3 separate regions of the Homo sapiens genome follow, and regions 1 and 2 are each linked to region 3. Evidence: fine-mapped expression QTL. A gene starts in region 3. Each other region holds a variant in brackets. All regions are shown on one strand. Distances are from middle to middle. Region 1 holds the start of SH3D19 (SH3 domain containing 19). Region 2 overlaps FHIP1A (FHF complex subunit HOOK interacting protein 1A). Region 3 holds the start of FHIP1A (FHF complex subunit HOOK interacting protein 1A).

Evidence for each region. PIP is the estimated chance that this variant, and not a neighbour inherited with it, causes the effect.
Region 1: its variant is fine-mapped to the expression of FHIP1A in whole blood (TOPMed, PIP above 0.99).
Region 2: its variant is fine-mapped to the expression of FHIP1A in whole blood (TOPMed, PIP above 0.99).

Annotation. Positions count from the first base shown.
Region 1 is chr4:151,321,137-151,329,318 of GRCh38, forward strand. SH3D19 (SH3 domain containing 19) reads right to left here and starts at 4,469. Exons shown (of 20, transcript NM_001378122.1): 1 at 4,105-4,469. The coding sequence starts at 4,216. The variant C/T (reference allele first, on the strand shown) is at 4,619.
Region 2 is chr4:151,520,414-151,528,595 of GRCh38, forward strand. The region is part of intron 3 of FHIP1A (FHF complex subunit HOOK interacting protein 1A); the gene reads left to right. Among named protein-coding and RNA genes, the nearest start is that of FHIP1A, 120 kb to the left of the region's middle. RefSeq lists an enhancer at 4,074-4,638. The variant G/A (reference allele first, on the strand shown) is at 4,076.
Region 3 is chr4:151,404,386-151,412,567 of GRCh38, forward strand. It overlaps FHIP1A (FHF complex subunit HOOK interacting protein 1A), which reads left to right and starts at 4,791. Exons shown (of 14, transcript NM_001109977.3): 1 at 4,791-5,080. It overlaps FHIP1A-DT (FHIP1A divergent transcript), which reads right to left and starts at 4,507. Exons shown (of 3, transcript NR_183963.1): 1 at 2,798-4,507; 2 at 1,138-1,223. RefSeq lists enhancers at 3,221-3,530, 3,362-4,061, 4,062-4,761 and silencers at 3,988-4,460, 4,581-4,750.

The DNA.
Region 1 (8,182 bases), 83 kb before region 3:
TTAGTATAAATAACATTATCAGTAGCCTTTATCCTCCCTTCTTCCCCCACCCAAGCTATCCTTCCTCTAGGGTGACTATCCTTGATTTGCCTGGGACTGAGGAGTTTCCATGAATGGGGGACTTTCAGTTTTAAAAGCTGGAAAAGTCCTGGGAAACTGGGAAGAGTTGGTCACCCAATCTCGTCCGCCTATTCCCCCCACCCTCCACTTCTTGCCCTTGGCTAGCACTAACTAACACTAACACAGTGGCACTAACACACCAATCTCAGTTGTGCAGATAGAGATGAAGAATATGCAATCAATAACAGAAAGAAAAAAACCAAGAAACAAAAATGAAGTTGATCATAAATGCCAGGCTGTATAAATCAACCATGAAATCCTTTAAGCTACCGAGAAAACCCACAATGGAAACTAAGTCCTATAAGTTAGCCTGTGGAAATCTCCATGTTTATCTCATGGGTTTTCATCTGATCTACTAAAAAGGACAAATTAGCCAAAGGAACTATTTCTTAGAATTTAACAATCTGTGTTGGGGTGTGATTTCTCTCTTAATTACATGGAGTTTGCAAAGTGCATCATCCTTTTGAACCAGCAACATAAATGTTATCTGGGAATGTGTCAAAAATGAAAATTATCAGGCCCTATCCCAGACCAAGTGATCAGATACTGAGCGTGTACAAGGCCTTCAGGCAATTCAGATACATGTGGCAAAAGTTTGAGAACCACTGGATTAGTGTACCCACATCCTCTCTTCCTTGTTTGTAATGGGCATTTGGTGGATTAGTGAGACACCCCCAAGAATTCAGGTGTTGTGTCTAGCTTTCATATTACCACTCTCTGTCAGGTCAGGCAATTAAGGATCTTGGATACCACCATCAACAGTAAATATTTCACATAGTGCCAGATTTACGACACCTTAGCCTCAGCACATGAAACCCAAACAATGGAATACTCTCTGCTCCCCATTTACTTTCCTATAACTGCTTATTAATCTCATGCATCATGAGCTACTACAGAATTAACCCTCACTGGCCAGGTGCAGTGGCTCACACCTGTAATTCCAGCACTTTGGGAGGCTGAGGTGGGAGGAGTTCGAGATCACCCTGGCCAACATGGTGAAACCCCGTCTCCACTAAAAATAGAAAAATTAGCCAGGCATGGTGGTGCACACTTGTAATCCCAGCCACTCTGTAGGCTGAGGCATGAGAATCACTTGAACCTGGGAGGTGAAGGTTGCAGTGAGCCATGACCACGCCACTAGACTCCAGCCTGGGCGACAGAGCAAGACTCTGCCTAAAAAAAAAAAAAAAAAAAAAAAACCTTTCCTGAATTGACCTCAGTACTTGATTGCCTATAATTCTGCCAAAAAAAAAAAAAAAATTCAACTGAGCTTTTTATTTATTTTAGAATCATGCTGAAGATATTTTATTACTTTAAAAGCTGGGAAACATAAATACATTTTATAAAGAAGTTGGGCACCAGATCAACTATCATCCTTTGTTGTAAAATAAAACTGTGATTAATCAAACCCAATTTTCTTAACATCATTTTAAAAACACACACACATTTATTTCCTAAGGATGCCCTACAAGGACTGTCCTGTGCTCAGAACCTGCCTGGGGCTCTTGGCCTTTGAATGAAAAGAACTCATTCCAGACATTTCATAATCTCAAGTCATTACTTGCTTTCTGCTGGGTTGATAAAATACAGGACAATTCCACTTAAATGATCTTAAAAAGGTAAAACTAAACAATATTTTATAGAGATGCATATGTGTATGGTAAAACTGTACAGAATGAAAAGGAAATAATAACCACAAAGGTTAAAAAAATGGTTACATCTAGGGGAGAGAGGAGGCTAAGTCTAGGAGGGATGGGAATCCATTTCTAAGGAACTGACTATATCCTATTTCTTGACTTGAGCATGAGTTACAAGAGTTTTTACTTTATAATTTACAAATTTCATATGTTCTTCTGTATGTAAGTTACAAAAATAAATAAATGCACTTACACAACCACTCCAAAATTTATCAGGGAGAGAAGGAAGAGTTCACAGACTACCTTAAGTCCATAAACCCCAGGTTTATGGTTATCAAGCTAGGTGAAATCAGAGAAAAGGAAACTCTTTAGATTGTAAAATGATAAGGGAAGGAGGGAGCACTGAGAACAGGAAAAGTGAAAAACTGAAAAGGTGATGCAGAAAAAACATGAAGCTTCTGCGTCAGTTCATACCCTCTCACTTGGAGGAGAGCAACATCTAGCACAGACATAACTAACAAATGCCCAAGCTTGGTAAGGAATGTGTTAGTGTCTGAAAAACATGTTAACTAATAAGGGGAAAGTGGAGCTCAGCTTGTAAAGAAATGTAAACTATTAAATAATTTCTTCTAAAAGAAATAAATCCAAAAATCGCAAGTTTAACCCTCTTACTCATTCCATTACATCGTCCTCACACCCTTTAATGGAAAAAGGGCATATAAATGGTTAGAAAACTACAAACACCAATTACTGAATGCAAAAAGTACACAATGTCATGTCTCAGCAAAATATTATCAAAGAACCTAGAAAAGCCTTTGTCAACCTTGAGAAATTAGGGAACTGGTGAAAACTAATTACAAAATGTCATTTCCACCAGCTTTGGAATAAATACACATATTGCAACTAAATGATAAACACACATCTGGATCACATCTAGTCTGAACTCCAAAACAGGTCTTCACTGTACAGTCTCTTGTGAGAATGAAGCTTTCTGCTGAAGGTAACAGGAATCTAAGGTGGCCTACCCTGTTTAAATCCATAGGTCAGGCATGGCGGTATATCTTTGTAAAGTTTTTTCATTGTACTCTTGCAAGAAATATTCACTTATATCCAGCAACTATTCATTATTTCACAAGGTTTGGGTTTACACTGAACAAAATTACCAATTATGTTCAAAACTGGTGTTCATATAGACAGCCAAATGCCTTATTTTGATGAAAAGTTGTAATAATGAGCATGGAGAATTATTTTTATGTTCCAAGATTCTACCAAAGGCATTAAATTGACTATTTCTTCAAGATGTTCTTCTCAAGTTTTCCTTTCATCCTACTTTCTACCCTCCATTTGTTCCGCACAGATACAATATCTTCTCTATTTTTCCAACTTTCTCTTAGTGGTTAAGGGAGTCACACAGAAAAGCTTCTCCACTTCATGGAATATTCGCTATATTCCACTTTATAATGAGGCTCTCAGTGAATCGTTCTCCTCCGACTCTCTCACTTCCCTATCTCCCTTTTGTTGCCAGTCCCCCTAGGTTTGTTCTTCCCTCTTGTTTTCAGATAACTCGGATTACCCAGTTGGAACCAAAGGCCAAAGAATGTCCTCTCTATTATGTTTGATTGAAAAGCCGCCCGGAAGAGGGAAGGGGTGTGGATCTACACTTATTCACTCTTTCACTAATGTGCCAAACTATTTGATCCGTGCCGCTTTTGTGTACCCAAAACACAGTATCATAAAAGTAATTACAGGCCCGAAAATGATTCTCAGCCCAAATGAATGGCCTTTTGGAATGCTATATTCTGGACTTCTCTTTGCGTGGGGGAGGGTCTCACAACTAACGAAAACAAGTCCTACAGAAAACTGGTGAGCTCGGCGGCTGGGGGAGGGAGGGAGGGGGGTCACAGGTCCGAAGTGCAAGGGACGCCGAAACAGGACTTGCCTCAGTTATGAGCACGTGCTCTGACCTGGCTGCGGCGGCGCAGGCAAACCCCTCGGAAGGTGTCGTTGTCCACCGAGACGGCCATTGACCTCTGACTCATCCAGAGATAAGTCATCAACCAGGCCACAAGTCCCAAGCCAGCAGCTCCTGGATTTAGTGTGCACGGAAAATTTGAGTTTCAGCTGTACGACCACTAGCAGTTAAAGACGGGTCTGAATTTCCTCGGGCTCGGCCGGAAAGTGAGGATGGCGATGGAAATGCCACCCTCCCCGAGTCTGGCCTCTGAGAGTTAAAGAAGCCGGTCCCATCCCGGCGCGTGAAGGAGCTGCCGCTGTGTGGGGCAGGACCCGAGCGGCCCCAGAGCGCGCAGCTCTGGGTCCCCGCCGCCCCGTCCCCCGCGCCTCTCACCTGCGGCCGAGTGGCCCGAGAGCGCACGGCCCCGGGCGCGGCGCTGGCCACCAAGTTCGCGGCGCTCGCGTAGCTCTTCCTCCTCGTCCTCCCGCCGCCGGCCCTCAGCCATGGGCGAGGCGCGGGGCGCAGCCGCGGGATGGCCAGCGAGCTGCGGCCCCGGCGCCCCAGAACGCCTGCACCCGGCGCCCCACGCCACCGCCCTCGGGCCGGGGGGAAGGCGGCTCCCGGAGAGGAGGCGTCGGCGGCGGCTGTGGAAATGGCCACCTCCGCGAACTCCACCTGCAGCCGGCCGGGCAGCGGCAGGGCGCGGGCCGAGCCGATTCCCCGCCTCCTTGCGGCGTCCCGGCGGCCTCTTAATCCCTGGCCTTTCCCACTCCCACTCCCGCTCTCTTCCCCCTTCCTCTTTGCCTTCCCCGCCCCGTAGAGCTCCACCGCGGATCGGGCGGGTTCGGGGCTGGCCTCGCCTCCTCAGGGAGGGGTTATCGGCCCCTAAGGCCGCCCCACAGCCACA[C/T]ACGCTGGAAACACCAGCTCGACCCAAACAAACGTGTGCAAAATAAATAAACGGGATAGGAAGAGGGGAAAGAGGAGGTGGCCTGGCCTCTTCCTGCCTTTTCACGATATTCCAGTGTCAACAGGAAACCCATTTGTTTGACACTTAAACAAAAAGAGGAGGAACCCGACCGGGGCCGAACTGGGAGAGATGGGACAGCTGGGAGCTGCTGAACTTTGGAACAAACTTGGCTTGGAGTTGGGTCGAGCCTCTGCAATGCACACTTTTTTCTTTCCCTCTCTTTTCGCCCTTAAAAACCTAGACTTGCGGGAGCACAGAGGATTTTTAGGGCAGTGAAACTACTATGCGTATGATTCTGTAATAGCGGATGCCTTTGTCCAAGCCCAAAGAATGTACAAAACCAAGAGTGAACCGCAATGTAAACTATAGACTTTGGGTGATTATGAGGTGTCAATGTGGGTTCATCAATTGTAGCAACTGTGGCACTCTGGTGGGGGATGTTGATAATGGGGGAGGCTATGCATGTGTGGGAGCAGGGGGTACATGGGAAATCTCTGTACCTTTAGCTCAATTTTGCTGTGAACCTAAAACTGTTCTTAAAAATAGTCTAGTAAGACTGGAAGCGGTGGCTCATGCCTGTAATCCCAGCCCTTTGGGAGGTCGAGGCGGGCAGATCACGAGGTCAGGATATCGAGACCATCCTGGCTAACACGGTGAAACCCCGTCTTTACTAAAAATACAAAAAAAAAAAAAAATAGCCAGGCGTGGTGGCGGGCGCCTGTAGTCCCAGCTACTCGGGAGGCTGAGGCAAGAGACTGGCCTGAACCCAGGAGGCAGAGCTTGCAGTGAACGGAGATCGCACCACTGCACTCCAGCCTGGGCAACAGAGCGAGAGTCCTTCTCGAAAAAAAAAAAAAGTCTAATAAAAATGTTTAATAATAAATCAAGCCTCACTGTATTCCAGTTCATTTAGGGCTAGGATATGGCTACAATTCCTAGAAGAACAGGAAGAAATGTGTTAAAGAGACCCATACGTGATTATTTGTAGAGAGGCAACTAGGGGAAGTGGAGAGACCACTGGCTCTGGAGTCAGAAACTGTAATTTGAAGCACTTAGCTGTGTGAGCTACCCCTAAGAAAGTTTTTCAAAGCTGGAAAGAACCGTGTAACCAAAGTTGTGTGTACCTGCACAATACACATCTTAGGTTCAGTAGGTGCACGTACTTACTTTCACACAGAGAGGAAAAGATTCTGGAATTTCACCAAAAGATACCCAAGTAGCAGGCAGAAATATTACCTGGACATGAAACCTTAGGAAATTCCTGAGTGCGATGAACAGGCCTTTATCTTTGGCGTCTTGCTCTATTTCTGAGAGATTACCAAGAGCTCCTAATGTTCAGCAAGTAGGAGAGAAAAAGAAAGGGAGAAAAGGGTCACTGAAAATAGAATTGCCTGCCACACCTGAGTGCTGTTTCTTTGCCTTTTCAATAGTGGCTGTTGCCGCCTGAGAAAATCTTTCCGCTTTTAAGCAGATAAGAACCACAATCGATTCTGTGGAATTGAGGTCAAATCCACAAGTTAAAACTTTATTACTGCATAAGCGATTAAATAAGTAGACACTTAGAGAACTGGAAATTAAGCCAACAACAATAAAACAAAGGTTCTGGACCTTTAGGGTTGTTTTAAATGTTTGGTAAGTGAAACCTTATTTGTCACTTCCCTTCAAGGATGAATAATTTAAAAATCCCTACCTTGACCAACAGTACCATTTCATTAAGCCATTGGAGTCAGTTTCTACTGTCATTGAGTCTTAATTTTTTTTTTTTTTTTTTTTTTTTGAGACTAGAGTCACTCTATTGCCGAGGCTGGAGTGCAGTGGCACGATATCGGCTCACTGCAACCTACGCCTGCCGGGTTCAAGGGATTCTCCTACCTCAGCCTCCCGAGTAGCTGGGATTACAGGCATGCACCACCACGCCCGGCTAATTTTTGTATTTTTAGTAGAGACGGGGTTTTACCATGTTGGCCAAGCTGGTCTCAAACTCCTGACCTCGTGATCCACCCACCTCAGCCTCCCAAAGCGCTGGATTACAGGCGTGAGCCACTGAGCCCAGCCATTGAATCTTAATTTGGAAAGGCGTGAAAGTTGTTCTGGGTTTCCCAGCCAATTAGAGCTTCGGGAATCCACATTTTTGTGGTGGGTGGGTGGTGCATGCCCAAGCCCACTCTACAATTAGCAAACATTTATGGTAACTGTTGTGTGCCAAGTACCACTCTAGGTGCTGTGGGGAGACTCAAAAGAAGGAAAGAAATATCCATGATCACATCCTATGGTAGGTGCTTTTCACATATGTCTTCTCATTGCAAAAGAACAAAACATGTTCCCTGTCCTCCAATGAGAGAGGAAGGTCTATACAGTTTACACAAAACGAGACAAAACTTGGTAAGTTCTTCAATAAAGATATAACTTTGGACAGGGTGCCAACATAATTCAACAGGGAAGGAATTGTCTTTACAACTGGATATCCACATGCACATGAATGAATTTGAGCCCCTATTTCATTCCATATGCAAAAATTAACTCAAAATGGATCATAGACCTAAATGTAAGAACTAGAACTATAAAACTCTTCGAAGAAAACATAGGATTAGATCTCTGTGACCATGGTTGAAAAAATAATTTTTTGGATGTGATACCAAAATACATAAATATCAGAAGAAAAAATAAATTGGACTTAGCAAAATTTAAAACTTTCGTGTTTCAAAGGACACGATTATTAAAGTGAAAAGACAGAAGGGGAGAACATACTTTCAAATCATATATCTAATAAGGACCTTATATTCAGAACATATAAAAAACAACAATAGTTGTTTAAAAACCCAATTAGGCCGGGTACAGTGGCTCACGTCTGTAATCCTAGCACTTTGGGAGGCTGTGGCGGGTGGATCAGGAGTTCCAGACCTGCCTGGCCAGGAGTTCAGGAGGTCAGGAGTTCCAGACCTGCCTGGCCAACCATGGCCAACATGGTGAAACCCCATCTCTACTAAAAATACAAAAAATTAGCCAGGCACGGTGACGCATGCCTGTAATCCCAGCTACTCAGGAGGCTGAGGTAGGAGAATCACTTGAACCCGGGAGGTGGAGGTTGCAGTGAGCTGAGATCCCGCCATTGCACTCCAGCCTGGGCAACAAGAGTGAAACTCTGTCTCAAAAAAAAAAAAAAAAAAAAAAAAAAGATGAACTTTGAAAACATTATGTCAAGTTAAAGAAGCCAGAGACAAAAGATTCCTATGATCTTGTTTATATGAAATGTCTAGAATAGGCTAATCTATGGAAACAAAATGTAGGTTAGTGGTTGCCAGGGGAGGGGAGAATGGGGAGTGATGGCCAATGGGTATAAGGTTTCTTTTTGAGGTGATCAGAATATCCTAAAATCAGAAGTGGTGGTGGTTGCACAATTTTGTAAATATAAGGGATACATTTTTGGTACATGAATTATATCTCAATAAAGCTGTTTTTTAAAAAAATATAACTAGCTCACTACAAAAGCACAGAAAACAAACC
Region 2 (8,182 bases), 120 kb after region 3:
TTGATTATTTTGGTCTTGTGCCATTTTTAGTAGTGGTATATTCTATGAATGTTCCATAAATCATATGGAATCACTTTGCCATTGTTGGACATTTTTAAGTTTATAATTTTTTATTATTAAAAACTGTACTGTGATGTATATTACTTCTGTTGTTTAATCTTTACTTGAGTGCAAGTGGTAGAAATAATTTATAAACAAAATTCAAGACAAATATGTATAACATTACTTTTAGCTTTACATAATATATTCTAATTTTTAGTTCAGTGACAAATGACAGTAACTACTATTAACAAGAAGGTAGAGTGAGTACTGTGACCAGCAGCCATGAAGTCCTCGTCAGCTGGCAGAGGAAAATTCACTTTGCTTCTAAATGTCATTCATGGATTGTTACTATTATACTAGTAACTAAAATTATTAGAGTAGAGAAGTATAAAGAACAAAAACTTCAAAAAGGCTTTCTTAGAACTTAGTGTTCTCCATGGGTTCTGTAATATATTGTAAACATGTATTTGCATGCATGTTGCAAGATTGAAAATGGGAGTCAGATATTTGACCGATTGTTTAAAGGTATTCACTCAATTATGGAAACAGAACAGTGGTTATAACACATGTCCTATGTATTGTCAGATGTGAGAGGTTATCTGTCTTGAGCTTTTGTATATGGTAATCAGAAAGACATTTAGTTGTGTAAATGATCCCTGAGGTGCATGTTTTTATTTTATGTGTGTATAAATAAAATTATACCACTGCATGAAGTGTTTGTAAATGCTTAGCTTCTTTATGTAACAATTTATCCACTTAGAGAAGCAATTTGTGGTATGTAGGCTACCCTAGATTTTATTTTAAGTGTTTGTGATTCTTTTCTTGGGGAAGGTGGATTTTAAGGGAGGAACAGTCATTTTGGATGAATATTTAATAATTTTTTTCATATTCTTGTCCATATGAACAGTGAAATAAATGTATATCATAACCTTTTAAGAGGTTTTCTTGCATTTACCATAACAACAATTAATATCTGTGATGGAAGGACTACTATACTGGAAAACTACACTTTTCATAAATTATTTAGTCGTCTCTGCGGTCTAATCAGGGTCTGATAGCTGTAGCTTGTAGGAAGCTAGATCTTGGTAAAGCACAAAGACCAAGGACTATACCTAGAACAGTATCATAGGAACCTTGTATAAGAATGGGTTATTCGGACTGTTATATCTGCCTTCTAATTTGTCAGTAAATTGGAGGCTTCCTTTCCGGGTATGTCAGTTTGTATGTATGTATGTATGTATGTATGTATGTATGTATGTATGTATGTATTTTTTTATTTATTTATTCAAGACAGGGTCTTGCTCTGTCCCACAGACTGGAGTGCAGTGGCATGATCACAGCTCACTGCAGCCTTGGCCTCCCAGGTTCAAGTGATCCTCCCACCTCACCCTCCCAAGTAGCTGGGACCACACACATGTGCCACCATGCCTGGCTAATTTTTAAAATTTTTTGTGGAGATGGGGTCTCCCCATGTTGCCCAGTCTGGTCTCAAACTCCTAGGCTCAAGTGACCCTCCCACTTCGACCTCCCAAAGTGCTGGGATTACAGGTGTGAGCTACCATGCCTGGCTGATGTTGGTTATTTTTAGCAAAATAAAAACTCTTAGATGTCTGAAACTTTCACTATCACTCTATGATCTATTATAAATCAATAAGAATCTTTAGGCAGGCTGTCCCCTTTTTCTCTCTTTCCTCCATGAAAGAACACAATGAAGTGAGTAAAAAAGCCATTTATTTGCCCTTCCTTCTAGCCCCAGTGCTGATTCCAGCCTTCAGTGCTGATCCAGTTTCTGGATCACTGTGGATACAGGGTATGGGGGCCACTCTAACCGACTTTAATCCCTTCCTGGATTCAGCTCGTGAAATAGAATTGTTTGTTTTAGTTGTATTGGCTTTGAAGTTTTGTGTAGTGAATTGTCAGAGTCCTGGACTGAACTCAATCTCTGGTTAATTCTTGATGAAATGATTTCTCCTTTCTCACAGAACCAAATGGACATCCTCAGTTGTTCTCTGTTCAGGAATCTCCCTGTGGAAAGTCAGTGGAGGTTTAACCAGGTTGGGAGAGAGGACAGTCACTGCTGGCTGCTGCCTACTGTGAATTCCCTTCAGTATCCAATTTTTCACTTCCCTGCCTATTCTTCTAATGAGAAATAACCCAGAAGTGGAACAGAAGAAAAACAAAACCCAAAACCATCAAACAAGCTTAAGACAAATTTTGTCCTTTGGCTTTCCAATCTTCTCATCTAATCATATTATTTTCAGCAACTTTTGATAACGTGTTGCTTGTATAAAATCAATTTGTGTGTCTTTTTTCTTTCATTCTTTCTTCCTTTTTTCACAATAAGATCTTGGGAGAGTGAATGCTAATGCAGTTCTAAAGTGGAAGCTTAAAACTAAGAACAGTTTGTTCTCCTTCCATCCCTTTACACTGTGATCTTTAACATCACCGTCAAGGAGAGTGTGTTTGGTTTTGTGATCAATTTAGCTGTCAGGGGTTTGTGATTTTCTGAGAGCTGACTCTTGCTGCTAATGAACATGATCATTTATACACTGTCACTGTAGTATAGGCATGTTAAATAATTGATCAGGCCCTGGCAGTTAGAGAATGGCAAATGCAGTCCCTTTGTTGCTATGGTAATACATTTGGTTAGGGGGGCTGTCATTTGGACCACATGGATCTGGCACATGTGACATAATTGCCTGTGGTTGAGGCGGTTGCAGGAGAAAATCAACTTAAGAAGAGGTGGCATTTTGAAGTAAATTAATGTATATTTCAGGGTTTTTTTTGGGCTTAACATTGTGGAGTGACTTATTCTTTTCTATTAAAAGGCTCATTCTCAGCTAATGGTAAGCATAGAGAATGAGTCAAGTGACAGATTTGTTTACTTGCTGACACAGTGGAATTTGTTCATTTATTGTATAAAATGGTTATTGTGTGAAGTTTACATTCCTCCCTCTATTATCCCCTGGAGGGCTCCCCATAAGTGAAATTGATGCCGGGCTTATTAGGGATCCCGAAGGGAATGGACAACATACTCTCTTTTGTTCTCTGTTTTTTTTTCTTTAAACAATCATAAGTTTTTAAAGGTAGGGGCTATGTTTTTGTATTCTTTCAACAAATATTTATTTGTTGCAAGGTGCTCTTAGGGGTTGGGAGCACAGTGTGAGCAAAGCAGATATGGTCCTTGCCCTCAGAGGTTAGACTGTGGTGGATTATGTCCATTTGTCTTTGAGTTTCTCCTTTAGCCCTATCCTTAGCCTTATCAAGAACCTTCTCAATATGTGTTTGGTAAGTGTTTAGAATAGTTTCTTCCTTTCCAGTCCAGTCTCTTAATATATGTTTCTTCCAATGATCTATTAATACTATTTGTGAACAACCAACACAAAAGTAAATGAAAGCTTAATTGACATAAGTGCAGCCCTTCCATTGATCCATGTCCTTCTTTTCCTTCATAGTTTAGCCAAGTTCTACCTCTGCTGTGATGCCATCCAAGCCAACAGCAATGTCTTTCTGGCTATTTTTTTACTCAGTTGATGTGACATATTTTGTTCTGTTTTTTAAAAATGTTATTATTGGCCAGGCGTGGTGGCTCACACCTGTAATCCCAGCACTTTGGGAGACCGAGGCGGGCAGATCATGAGGTCAGGAGATCGAGACCATCCTGGCTAACACAGTGAAACCCTGTCTCTACAAAAAATTAGCTGGGCGTGGTGGCACGCGCCTGTAATCCCAGCTACTTGGGAGGCTGAGGCAGGAGAATCACTTGAACCCGGGAGGCGGAGGTTGCAGTGAGCCAAGATTGTGCCACTGCTCTCCAGCCTGGGTGACAGAGTGAGAATCTGTCTCAAAAAAAAAAAAAAAAGTTGTTACTTAATCTTTCATGTGTCCTTGCCATCCCTCTTAGATGATTTGGGGCAGGAAAAAAGCTGAAATCCAGTGGTCAAACCTCAGCATCTTCATTTTATAGAGAAGTCAGGCCTGTAGAAATTAAATGATGACAGGTTAATAAAAGAATCAGGACTGGTATCGAAGT[G/A]TCTAGACTCCAAGATTCCTCTTCTTTACTCTTCATGTGCCATTTCTGAGAGGAGGCACCAGCAGCTGCTGTGCTCTCAACTTAAAGTGGGAGTCTTGTAGCCATGGGTGGTGAACAGAGGGCTGATGCTAGGACTGAACTAGGCATAATGGGTAACAACAGTGGTTAGATAATGCAGAACTAAAGGTTGAAGCACTTTATCAGTTTTAATTTGACATATGAAGCAGTTGGAAACCATTGTAGGCTTCTGAGAAGAAGCTAAACATGAGCAAATTAACACTTGAGGGAAGATGCAAGAGACACCTGCTGAGTATCAGTATGGTTGGGGGCAGGGAGGACAGCAGGAAATGCCTTTGGAAAGGAAGTGTTGCCTGTTCGACATGTAGAAACTTGAGGCTCTTTGGTTTTGAACTAAGATACTATAATAAATACATGACAGAAATAGGAATCAAATTCTCAAATGGTGCGTCAGCTCCATCTCTTTTGATCAAAGGGCTTTCTGGCTCTGAATTTTGATGATTATCTTATTTTATTTTCACTTGCAGAAAGATCATTCTAGCATTGCTTACCTCTCATCCCATACTTATGTGACTCCAGCCCTGATTAAAATAGACTGAAATTAAGAGAAATCTTCTAAATTAAACAAAAAGGAAAATTTACTGAAAGAATTCTAATAGGTTATGGAACTCAGGCTCAGCTGGGCCTAAGGAAGATTTTACATCAGGAATTAGAATGCTAGCTCAGCACCCTATTCTGTTTTCTTTCTTTCTCTCACTAAACTGGCTTTCACTCCACATGGCTAAACCAGGCTGCACTATAGCTTCTGAGTTTATGTCTCAGTTATTGAAGCAACTTGAGAAACACATTGAGCATTTTCCAATTGTATTTTCAATTCCTGAGAGGAAAAATCGGATTGACTCAGCCCATTTTTTGCCCAGCAAAGGTGGGAGGTAGAGCAGCCAGGCTCATCTGATGCCAAAATGGCAGTGCCAGATCTCATCCTTGAATTGGAAGTATTGGGGGACAGAGAAGGGGGTCTTGGCAGATGCCCCCAACAAATTGAAAATCCCCACTTCAAATTACCCAGATTTCTAAAGAGGTGTTTGCCATTTGTTGAATAACTGTTTTGAAATTTCATTGTGGCATAATGAGGAATTACATTTATTCTTTCCATTTAATCAATTTAATCATTTTAAAAACAATTTAGATCTGTAGTGTTTTCCTGAAGCTAATGTTTTGCTGCTCACCTTTGTACTTCTTTTTTTTTTTTTTTCATTTTTAATTTTTTATTGATCATTCTTGGGTGTTTCTCGCAGAGGGGGATTTGGCAGGGTCACAGGACAATATTGGAGGGAAGGTCAGCAGTTAAACAAGTGAACAAAGGTCTCTGGTTTTCCTAGGCAGAGGACCCTGCGGCCTTCCGCAGTGTTTGTGTCCCTGGGTACTTGAGATTAGGGAGTGGTGATGACTCTTAAGGAGCATGCTGCCTTCAAGCATCTGTTTAACAAAGCACATCTTGCACCGCCCTTAATCCATTCAACCCTGAGTGGATACAGCACATGTTTCAGATAGCACAGGGTTGGGGGTAAGGTCACAGTTCAACAGGATCCCAAGGCAGAAGAATTTTTCATAGTACAGAACAAAATGAAAAGTCTCCCATGTCTACCTCTTTCCACACAGACACGGCAACCATCCGATTTCTCAATCTCTTCCCCACCCTTCCCCCCTTTCTATTCCACAAAACCGCCATTGTCATCATGGCCCATTCTCAATGAGCTGTTGGGTACACCTCCCAGACGGGGTGGTGGCCGGGCAGAGGAGCTCCTCACTTCCCAGTAGGGGCGGCCGGGCAGAGGCGCCCCTCACCTCCCAGACGAGGCGGCTGGCCGGGCGGGGGGCTGACCCCCCCACCTCCCTCCCGGACCGGGGTGGCTGGCCGGGCGGGGGGCTGACCCCCCCACCTCCCTCCCGGATGAGGCGGCTGGCCGGGCGGGGGGCTGACCCCCCCACCTCCCTCCCGGACGGGGCGGCCGGCCAGGCAGAGGGGCTACTCACTTCCCAGTAGGGGCGGCCGGGCAGAGGCGCCCCTCACCTCCCGGACGGGGCGGCTGGCCGGGCGAGGGGCTGATCCCCCCACCTCCCTCCCGGACGGGGCGGCTGGCCGGGCGGGGGGCTGACCCCCCCTCCTCCCTCCCGGACGAGGTGGCTGCCGGGCGGAGACGCTCCTCACTTCCCAGACGGGGCGGCTGCTGGGCGGAGGGGCTCCTCACTTCTCAGATGGGGCGGCTGCCGGGCGGAGGGGCTCTTCACTTCTCAGACGGGGCGGTTGCCGGGCAGAGGGTCTCCTCACCTCTCAGATGGGGCGGCCGGGCAGAGACGCTCCTCACATCCCGGACGGGGCGGCAGGGCAGAGGCGCTCCCCACATCTCAGACAATGGGCGGCCGGGCAGAGACGCTCCTCACTTCCCAGATGGGATGGCGGCTGGGAAGAGGTGCTCCTCACTTCCTAGATGGGATGGCGGCCGGGCAGAGACACTCCTCACTTTCCAGACTGGGCAGCCAGGCAGAGGGGCTCCTCACATCCCAGACGATGGGCGGCCGGGCAGAGACGCTCCTCACTTCCCAGACGGGGTGGCGGCCGGGCAGAGGCTGCAATCTCGGCACCCTGGGAGGCCAAGGCAGGCTGCTGGGAGGTGGAGGTTGTAGCGAGCCGAGATCACGCCACTGCACTCCAGCCTGGGCACCATTGAGCACTGAGTGAACGAGACTCCGTCTGCAATCCCGGCACCTCGGGAGGCCGAGGCTGGCAGATCACTCGCGGTTAGGAGCTGGAGACCAGCCCGGCCAACACAGCGAAACCCCGTCTCCACCAAAAAAATATGAAAACCAGTCAGGCGTGGCGGCGCACACCTGCAGTCGCAGGCACTCGGCAGGCTGAGGCAGGAGAATCAGGCAGGGAGGTTGCAGTGAGCCGAGATGGCAGCAGTACCGTCCAGCTTCGGCTCGGCATCAGAGGGAGACCGTTTAAAGAGAGGGAGAGGGAGACCGTGGGGAGAGCGAGAGCGAGAGAGAGAGGGAGAGGGAGAGGGAGAGGGCACCTTTGTACTTCTTAACTGCTGGAAAATTGACTTTATTATTGTTATTATTTTTATTGGTAACACAGGGGCTGAGAAGTTAAAGGTCTGCAATGCTTCAGTATAATGCTCTGATAATTAAAAGGTGAATTTCTGTGCATGAAGAAATTCTGTGAATCATAAACCATAGTTCTTTTGATTGTGTTTATACTCTTTCCAGAGAGGTTCAGAAATGAATAACCTTGAGATACTCAGACCTCACAAGGTTTACTAGCTTCAAAGATTCTGATTTTATTTATAGGCTGCAAAAAACCACTCAATGAAGTTGGTTGTGATTCACTGCTTATCACCTTGGGCTATTGCCACTCAATGCCAGGAAGGTATTGAATTTTGTACAGTGAGAGAGTAGAATAAAAACCGTGTAGCTCCAAACAGAAGCCCAAGCGTTATCTCAGGTATTTCTCATAGCTTATTGAATGGACCCAGGCCAGTGGCTTCAGATCTGAGTTTTTCTGCTTCTCCCCACCTCTGTGAGAAGTGAATACTTTGTCAATACAGCAGCTGCTTGGTTCTTTTGGTGACTGAAGGAAGAGCTAATAGGAACAGTAATTTTCATGGCCAGTTGAGTAGTGGTCTGACGAAAAATAAATCTGGATAAATTATGCCTTGGCCTGTTAGAGTACCCCTGTTTCACTCCCAGCTTTGATTTATGCAGTAGTGCTCCTCTACTGCCTCTTTAAAATCTATGGTAAACAAATTTTCTGTTATATGCAAATTTGAGAAAGGCGCTGAAGTAGATAGCTATGAAATGTACATCATGGGTATCTGCTGAAACCCATTGTCCGTTCTGTCGAAATATAGAACTCATTTATTTAAACCAGAAAACACGAAGTGGAACAAATTTTGGTTGGAAGCTAGGTAATAAAATAAATGATACATGGAAAGGGACCCCAAAGGTGCTCCAGAAAAGCTGGCATAGGATTGGAGGCCAGGCTAGGAGGAGGTGAGCATTGGGTAAGGCTTCATGTAATGG
Region 3 (8,182 bases):
TGGAAGGCGGAGGTTGCAGTGAGCCGAGATTGCACCACTGCACTCTAGCCTGGACCAAAGAGTGAAACTCCGTCTCAAACAAAACAAAACAAAACAAAAAGAATAAAATGAAATACATTAATAAAAAACATGATTTAGAAACGGCTACTGTTACTAATATATGCATTTACAGCCAATATACTTATTTTTAACTTTTGCTTAATTAACTTCTAAAGCAGTAGGTTCAAATTAATTGCTGTTTAACTGGATGATGCTGTTAAAAAACGCACTGCTCCATATTGGAATTCTTATATGTTGTCAGTGGGAGCATAAATTGGTATAATCACTTTGGAAAATTGTTTGGCAGTATCAACTAAATCTCATTGTATATACAGCCTATCATCCAGCAATTCCACTCCTGAGAGAAAGTGATACCTTCCTATGGCAGAAAACTTGGAAGTAGAGAAAAGCACAGAGAATAAAAATAAACTGTCATCCTAGTACTGAGATAATCATTATTATTATTATGATTTTTTTGAGATGGAGTTTCACTCTTGTTGCCTAGGCTGAAGTGCAATGGTGCAATCTTGGCTCACTGCAACCTCCGCCTCCCAGGTTCAAGTGATTCTCTTGCTTCAGACTCACGAGTGGCTGGGATTACAGGCGCCTGCCAACACGCCCAGCTAATTGTTGTATTTTTAGTAGAGACGGGGTTTCACCTTGTTGGTCAGGCTGGTCTCGAACTCCTGACCTCAGGTGATCCACCTGCCTCGGCCTCCCAAAGTTCTGGGATTACAGGCATAAGCTACCATGCCTGGCTGAGATAATCATTATTAATATTTGTAAAGAGAATCTTACTTTACACACTTACTTTTATAGTAGACTTACTTTATACAATATTATAAATATATTTCCATGTAATAGATATTTTCCAACTTTTTTTTTTTTTAAGAAGAGACAGGGTCTCACTCTGTTGCCCAGGTGGGCGTGCAGTGGCACTCAAAGCTCACTGCAACCTCGACCTCCTGGGCTCAATTGATCCTTCTGCCTCAGCCTCCTAAGCAGTTGGGACTATAGGCCCGTACCACCACATCTGCTTATCCTTTATTTTTATTTATCTATTTTAATTTATAAAGAAAAGAGTTTTAATTGGCTTACAGTTCTGCAAGCTGTACAAGCATGGCTCCAGCATCTGCTTCTGGGTGAGGGCCTCGGGAAGCTTCCACATGAGCTACCATGCCTGTCTTCATGGTGGAAGACAAAGAGAGAGCAGACAGTGTCATATGGCAAGAATGGGAGAAGGAGACAGCCCCTTTACCTTTAGCAAGACTTATTTCCTCAAAAGAATGAGTCTGTTTCACTCCCAGAGGGCATAATGGATATGAATGAAATTCATATTTGTAGAGAGGGAACTAACATTCTTAAGTGTCTATCATGTATTAGGCATTGTGTTATACACTTCACTATGCTAATTTGTCATCCTAAAACAACCTTAACAAAGTAGGTATTACTTTCATTTTATAAGTTGAAGAAACTGAAGACCATTCAAATTATGCGCCTCTCCTTTCCTGCCTTGATTTTACCCTAACCTCCTTTTGAAGTCTTCTCCAACTTTGTTATAGCAGTTCCGTCCTTACGCTGCCCACATTCAAATTATGCGCCTCTCCTTCCTGCCTTGATTTTACCCTAACCTCCTTTTGAAGTCTTCTCCAACTTTGTTATAGCAGTTCCATCCTTATGCTGCCCAGGCCAAAAGCCTCAGAGTCCTTCTCATCTCCTTCCTTTATACCCCACATCCAATGTGAGGAAACCATCAGCTTATCATCTCTACCACTATTTCTCTGGTCCACATCTCTATCTTCTTGTCCCTCAATTATTATTATTATCTTTTTGTGAGATGGAGTCTCGCTCTGTCGCCCAGGCTGGAGTGCAGTGGTGCAATCTCGGCTCACTGCAACCTCTACTCACTGCAACCTCCGCCTCCTGAGTTCAAGTGATTCTCCTGCCTTAGCCTCCTGAGTAGCTGGGACTACAGGTGCGTGCCACCACACCTGGCTAATTTTTTGTATTTTTAGTAGAGGCGGGGTTTCACCATGTTGGCCAGGATGGTCTTGATCTCCTGACCTTGTGACCCACCCACCTTGGCCTCCCAAAGTGCTGGAATTACAGGCATGAGCCACCGCACCCGGCTGACCCTAGATTATTTTAGTAGCCTCTTAACCAGTCTCTGTGCTTCTACCCTTACACCCTACTGTTTATTCTTAACCCAGCAGTCAAAGTGATCCAATTACAATGTCAGAAAGTGTCACTTTTCTACACAAAATCCTCCAATGGCTCCAACCAACTCACTCAGAGTAAAAGCCTTACCTGATCTGCATCACCCCCACCTTTCACTTCTTTGACTTCATCTTCTCCATTCTTTCATGGTGCCTTCTGGATTGCTCCTAGTACACTTAGGCATACTCCTGCCTCAGGGCCTTTACATTTGCTATGCTTTCTGCCTGGGAAGTTGTCTGCTCAGATATCCCTAACCTCCCTCAAGTCGTTCCTCAAATGTTACCTCCTCCAGAAGCTTTCCTTGATCATCACCCCTCTCCGAACATAGCACCCCTCATACTTTCTATGTACCCTCTCTGCTTAATTTTTATCCACAGCATTTCTTTCTTTCTTTCAAAACAGGGTCTCACTCTGTCACCCAGGCTGGAATGCAGTGGGCTCAAGTGATCCTCCCACCTCAGCCTCCTGGATAGCTAGGACTACAGGTGCACGCCACCATGCCTGGCTAATTTTTAAACTTTTTGTAGATAGGGGGTCTTACTATGTTGCCCAGGTTGGGTCTCCAACTTCTGGCCTCAAGTGATCCTCCTCCTTTGGCCTCCCAAACTGCGGGATTACAGGCATGAGACAGCACTCCTAGCCTCTCCATAGCATTTCTAATCATACAGCAGTCCATATATTGTCCTTATACATTTACCATCTGTCTTTCCCACGTGGAAGAGGTAAGCTCCACGAGGGCTGGAATTGTTGTTTGTGCTCTCTGCTGTGTCCTCAACCCCTAGAAGCGTGCCTAGCATGCAAAAGGCACTCAGTATATATTTGTTGAGTAAATGAATGCTTCCCCCACCTTCCAACTGTTAGAGCAGGCCAAGGGGACCTGTTGTGCAGAACTTCACAGCTTTCTACTCTGAGCTCTATCTTCCTTGTTCTTCCCCAGCTTTTACTTAGGAGCCACTTCTTGACTGAGCTTGTCACAGGTGAAAGGCTGATGAATCTGGAGAGATACTTGTGGCAAGTACCCGGTGTTCCTGCAGTCATCCACAAGCGCAGCAGTGGTGGTAGACAGCTAGAGAAGAAAGTGTAAAGTTTGCATCCTCCAATTATCACGGTTGCAAGACAGAACTTGAAACTAGATACACCTGATTTTGGTTATCTCTGGATGCCATTCACCGAGAATGAAGGGAAGAAGATACTTCCTCCAAAGGAGAATCTGATGAGGCGCCAGCAGGCTGCTGCTGCGGTGGAAACTGCCACATCCGCTTTTGCAAACTGGTGTGGCCCCAGCTGCTTGGACTGAGGCTCAACGCAGGTTTCAGCCACTTCAACCACAGGGCTACGAACATGCCAAGAGAGCCACTAACCAAGTTTCTCATTCCTCCTCTGAGATTTAAAGTCCATCACTTCGCGACTCAAACACGCAAGAGGCGTGGGAGACGGAGGAATGGGGAAGCGAGGCGGCGCTGCCCACCTTGGCAATGGCACAGCCGCGGTCTCTGATGCAAAGGCAGGCGGCCGCGCAGGGCCGGGCCTGGGTGGGAAGGCTGGGCTCTGGGAAGGATGTCGGGGCACCCGGCAGTGCCCAAAGCCACCATCTCAAGCGTGATAGTGGGAAAATGGATGCTGCACCTGCTCTCTCATCTTGCGGGGAATCGTGATTTGGGGAAGTTTCACCTTTGTTGCAGAACTGCCCACATTAGAGCCTTCATTTCTTGGGAAGGGGTTGGCGGGAGTTGCCAGTGAAATGTGTGACACACACACGCGCCACATACTCCCCAAACCCACAGACGACTCCAGTAACGCTCTAGTTACCCTTAAAAAGTAAAACAGAACAAATCAGCAGGCCCCCTCCCTCCATCCTGGCACTTCATTAATGTCGGCCAAGGCCACATTTCCCCTGCCCACTGCAGGGAGTCTGTCAGGAGAACAACAGGCGAACGTTTGCCTCACTTGACTCAGCTCTCTTGGGGCGGTATCAGCATTTTAAAATTCACACCTAAAGGAAGGAGTCAGCAAAGGAAAGCAGAGCTGGGCCGGGGCGCCGGTGGCCGCCGTCAAACCTTTGGGAAGCAAGAAATCCGAAACGCCCGTGACGTGCGGCGTTGTCCGACTCCTTCCACTAGGCAGAACCCGAGAGACGAGCCTTTGGCGGGACGGTGAACGATTGTGCTGTGTACGGCGGTGTGCGTGCGTGAGTAAAGAGTGTGTAGCTCCGGCCAAACGCTAGCCCCCAAGGGCGCGAGTGCTACACTGCGCCCAGCTCAAGTTTCTGTGGAAACTTTCCCTCAGAGGCTCCTCCTCCTTCACCTTGGAAACCGGCGCGGGCCGTGCGGCGCGGCACTGCCTAAGTCCCCGGCGCACCTGGCGGCGGCGTGTCCCAGCGGCAGAGGCGGGGCCGGCGGCGGCGGGGGCGGGGCCGGGGCGCGCTCCCCGAGGCCTCCAGGCAGGTTGGGCCCCACCCCCGCCCCTGCCCCGCCCCGGCCCCCGCCCCCGCCCCCGCCCCCCCCGCGCTCACTAGGGAGAGGCTGGGGGGAGGCAGTGACCCACGCGCCTCAGCCCGCGGCTGACGCACCTTCGAAAAGTTGCGCTCCGACCTTCTCACGACCTACATTCTTCCCGGGCACTCCTGAGTTTGAGCCGGGCCTGGAGGACCTGGGCCAAGACTTTCGAGCGGCGGCCGCCCGAGGTGCGAGGAGCCAGCCCGGCTTTCCTCACTGGGTCCCGCGCAGGCGTCCCCGGGACCGCAGAGCAAACTTTCTGGACTATCTGAGGACACTTGTCCAGCGAGCCCCACTGCTCGGGGAGGAGGAGCCACGGCCGGGGACAGGTAGGTGCTGTGCTGGCCGGAGATTTGCGCTTGAGGGATTCTTTTATTTTAGAGGGTTGAAGGAGGAGGGAGAGTCGAAATGTCCCTTCTCTGCATCCGCCAACTGGGCAGGGGGTGCGGGCATTGGGCTGAGGGAGCAGGCATTGGGCTGGGGGCCGGCTGGGGATGTTCCAAACGAGGTCGCTGCGTCGGGCGGGGGCGCAGGGGGGAGGAGGTGACTTCTAGGGTTTCGGGCTCCGGGACGGGGCGTAACGCGGTGACTGACCCTGGGAGAGAGAGAGCCAGCTTGTTTTGACGAAGGAATATGTCATTAGGGCCCTCCATCCCATTCCTTGGTCCCAGGGTCCTCTGGGAGGCACAGGAAAAGGCAAAGAGATGTGGAGTTCAGGTTTCCCCTGTAAATCAACTTGCTTACACAGGAGACAGAGGCGGTGCCCCTCTGAGGTTTGCAGCCCTTTCCTGGTGTAAGGACTTACTGGTTAGGTAGCTGTTGCTCAATTTCGTAAATTCTGTGATGAAACTGCGTTCAAGTCGTGGTTATTATTGATAGTGTGTATGTGTTTGTGTTTCCTCTGGCTCAACAAAGGTCCCTTGTTAACTCCGCTTCTGCTAGGGAGTGGGAAGAACTACCTTGGTGTCTTATTTCAGGCCTGGTCAGAGCGAGGTGTTGGTGCAGGCGGCGGTAGCCTTGTTGGCTTGGGACTTTGGGAATCACATGAGCAGGTCTAGTGAATTAGTGTCCCAGCCTCCTGGACCCACCCATTCACAGCAGATCTAGCTTCCACTATTCAGCAGATGCTGCAGCCCCAGCTATCCAGGGACAGGGAAACCCCCCTGAAGGGAAAGAGCCAAATGTTGAGAAGGAGAGACAGCTTTCAGGAGGAGGAGTAAACAATGCCTAACAATTGTTGCTTCCCTATAGATTGGGCTTGCTCCCTTGGCTTCTCTGGAAGGGCTGTGCTATCAAATTCATCTCATTAGGAAGTCAGCTGCTCCCTGCTAATAGTCATAGCAGCCCTGATGAAATTATATAGGTCATTGAAAAATAATTCCTGCTTAATTACCTTTATCCTGTTGATTAATGAGAGGGAAGATTTCCTCTCCTTAATGTATTATGCCTGCTTGTCAGGGTCACCTGCCTGACCTCAAGTTCACTTGTACACCTGGCACTAGGCAGGATGCTGTCCCCGAAGCTGTCCACATGTAGTGAACCACAGCTGAAGTCCACGTTTGGAGAACTTCAAAGGTCTTCTTTGGACCGAAATTGAGCAGGATATTTAGTCCATAAATTTACTCTTTAATACAGTATACTTGTTGGCTTTAGGTAACTTTTCGCATAATTAAAGGTTGATATCTTTTTAGTTCCAGTTAATCCCTTTCCGCAGAGCTCATAAGAATTATGTCCATGCCTGTCTTGAAATAAATTAAGTTTGGGGTCCTATTTATCATTTGTCCTGTAGGACAAGGAACAGGATTAAACTGTGTAGGGTGGCTGGAAAGGGGCAGAGAAACTGGACATCACTGAAGTGGATTCAGAGAGTGATTGAGAGTGGTCTAAAAATTTAGGTCCAACTGCCCAGCTACCTTTTTTCTTGGCTCTCATATAAAGACATTGTGTAGGACTTTTAATGGAGGACTTGAAGACTAGAAATAAAAGGAGTGTTTTATTTTTACATAGTCAGAGTGATGCATTGCTGGACAGTTCTGTACTCTGCCTCCCAAGATTGGTTCAAAATACTTTCTCTGCTAAGTTCTTTCTTTAATAGGAACTTGATAGATAATGACTGCAAACAAGAAGCAGATGTACAAATATATTATGTAGAGATATGGAGGTAAAATGAGAAAAAACAAGAATTGCCTCTGAGGAGTGAAATTATATATATATTTTTTTTTTTTTAAAGTTAGGGTCTCTCTCTCTCTCTGGCCCAGGCTAGAGTTCAGTGGCATGATCTCGGCTCACTGCAGCCTTGATCTCCTGGGCTCAGGCAGTCCTCCCACCTTAGCCTCCTGAGTAGCTGGGACCACAGGTTCATGCCATCACACTCTGTTAATTTTTTGTATTTTCATACAGACAGGGTTTTGCCACGTTGCCCAGGCTGCCCTTGAGCTCCTGGACTCAAGCAATCCGCCTGCCTTGGTCTCCCAAAATTCTGGGATTACAGGTGTGAGCCACCATGCCTGGCCTCTTGTATTACTTTCATAAAGAAAATTTAATAAGGAACCTCCTTTCTCCATGCAAATATAAAGCAAAATTGCTTTATTTAATCTGTTTAGACACTTGATCTTTATTCTGTGTACATCTGTCTTCTAGGGTGATACGTAGGCCCAGTGAAGATCTGGATCAGATTCTGCCATTGAAACACAATTTAGATCTACTTCATCCTTATTTTTAGCAACTTCCAACCCTTGGTTCTTAGCCCAGGTAGGGGAACAGTGCTCAAGAGTGACAAGAAACTCCAGGAACTTCATTTATAGGGATCTCTTAATGAAAACAATAACAGAAGTGAACAGTTCTGTAGTGCTTTATGTTTCACAGAGTGCTTTCATGTACCATGTTTGTGCCTTGTGATTTAACCATTTTGTAGTAGATGCCATTGTGTTTAGATTACACAGGAGGAAAGCAGATGAGGTTCAGAGATAATAAGGGACTTTTTTGAGACGGAGTTTCACTCTTGTTGCCCAGGCTGGAGTGCAATGGTGTGATCTCGGCTCACTGCAACCTCTGCCTCCCAGTTCCAGCGATTCTCCTACCTCAGCCTCCTGAGTAGCTGGGATTACAGGTGCCCACCACCATGCTCAGCTAATTTTTTTTGTATTTTTAGTAGAGATGGGGTTTCGCCATGTTGGCCAGGGTGGTCTCAAACTCCTGACCTCAGGTGACCCACCCACCTCGGCCTCCCAAAGTGCTGGGATTACAGGCGTGAGCCACTGTGTTCGGCCAATAATAAGGGACTTTTATGGGCATACTCTTTGCTCCTGTATATTGTGGACTGAGACCTGAATTCAGGATTTCTGATTTACAGCCCATGCTTTCACTTTTTTCCTTGTTACATTTTGTGAAGTGGTTGGATGTGAAATGGGCTTTTCTTTTTCTTTCTTTCT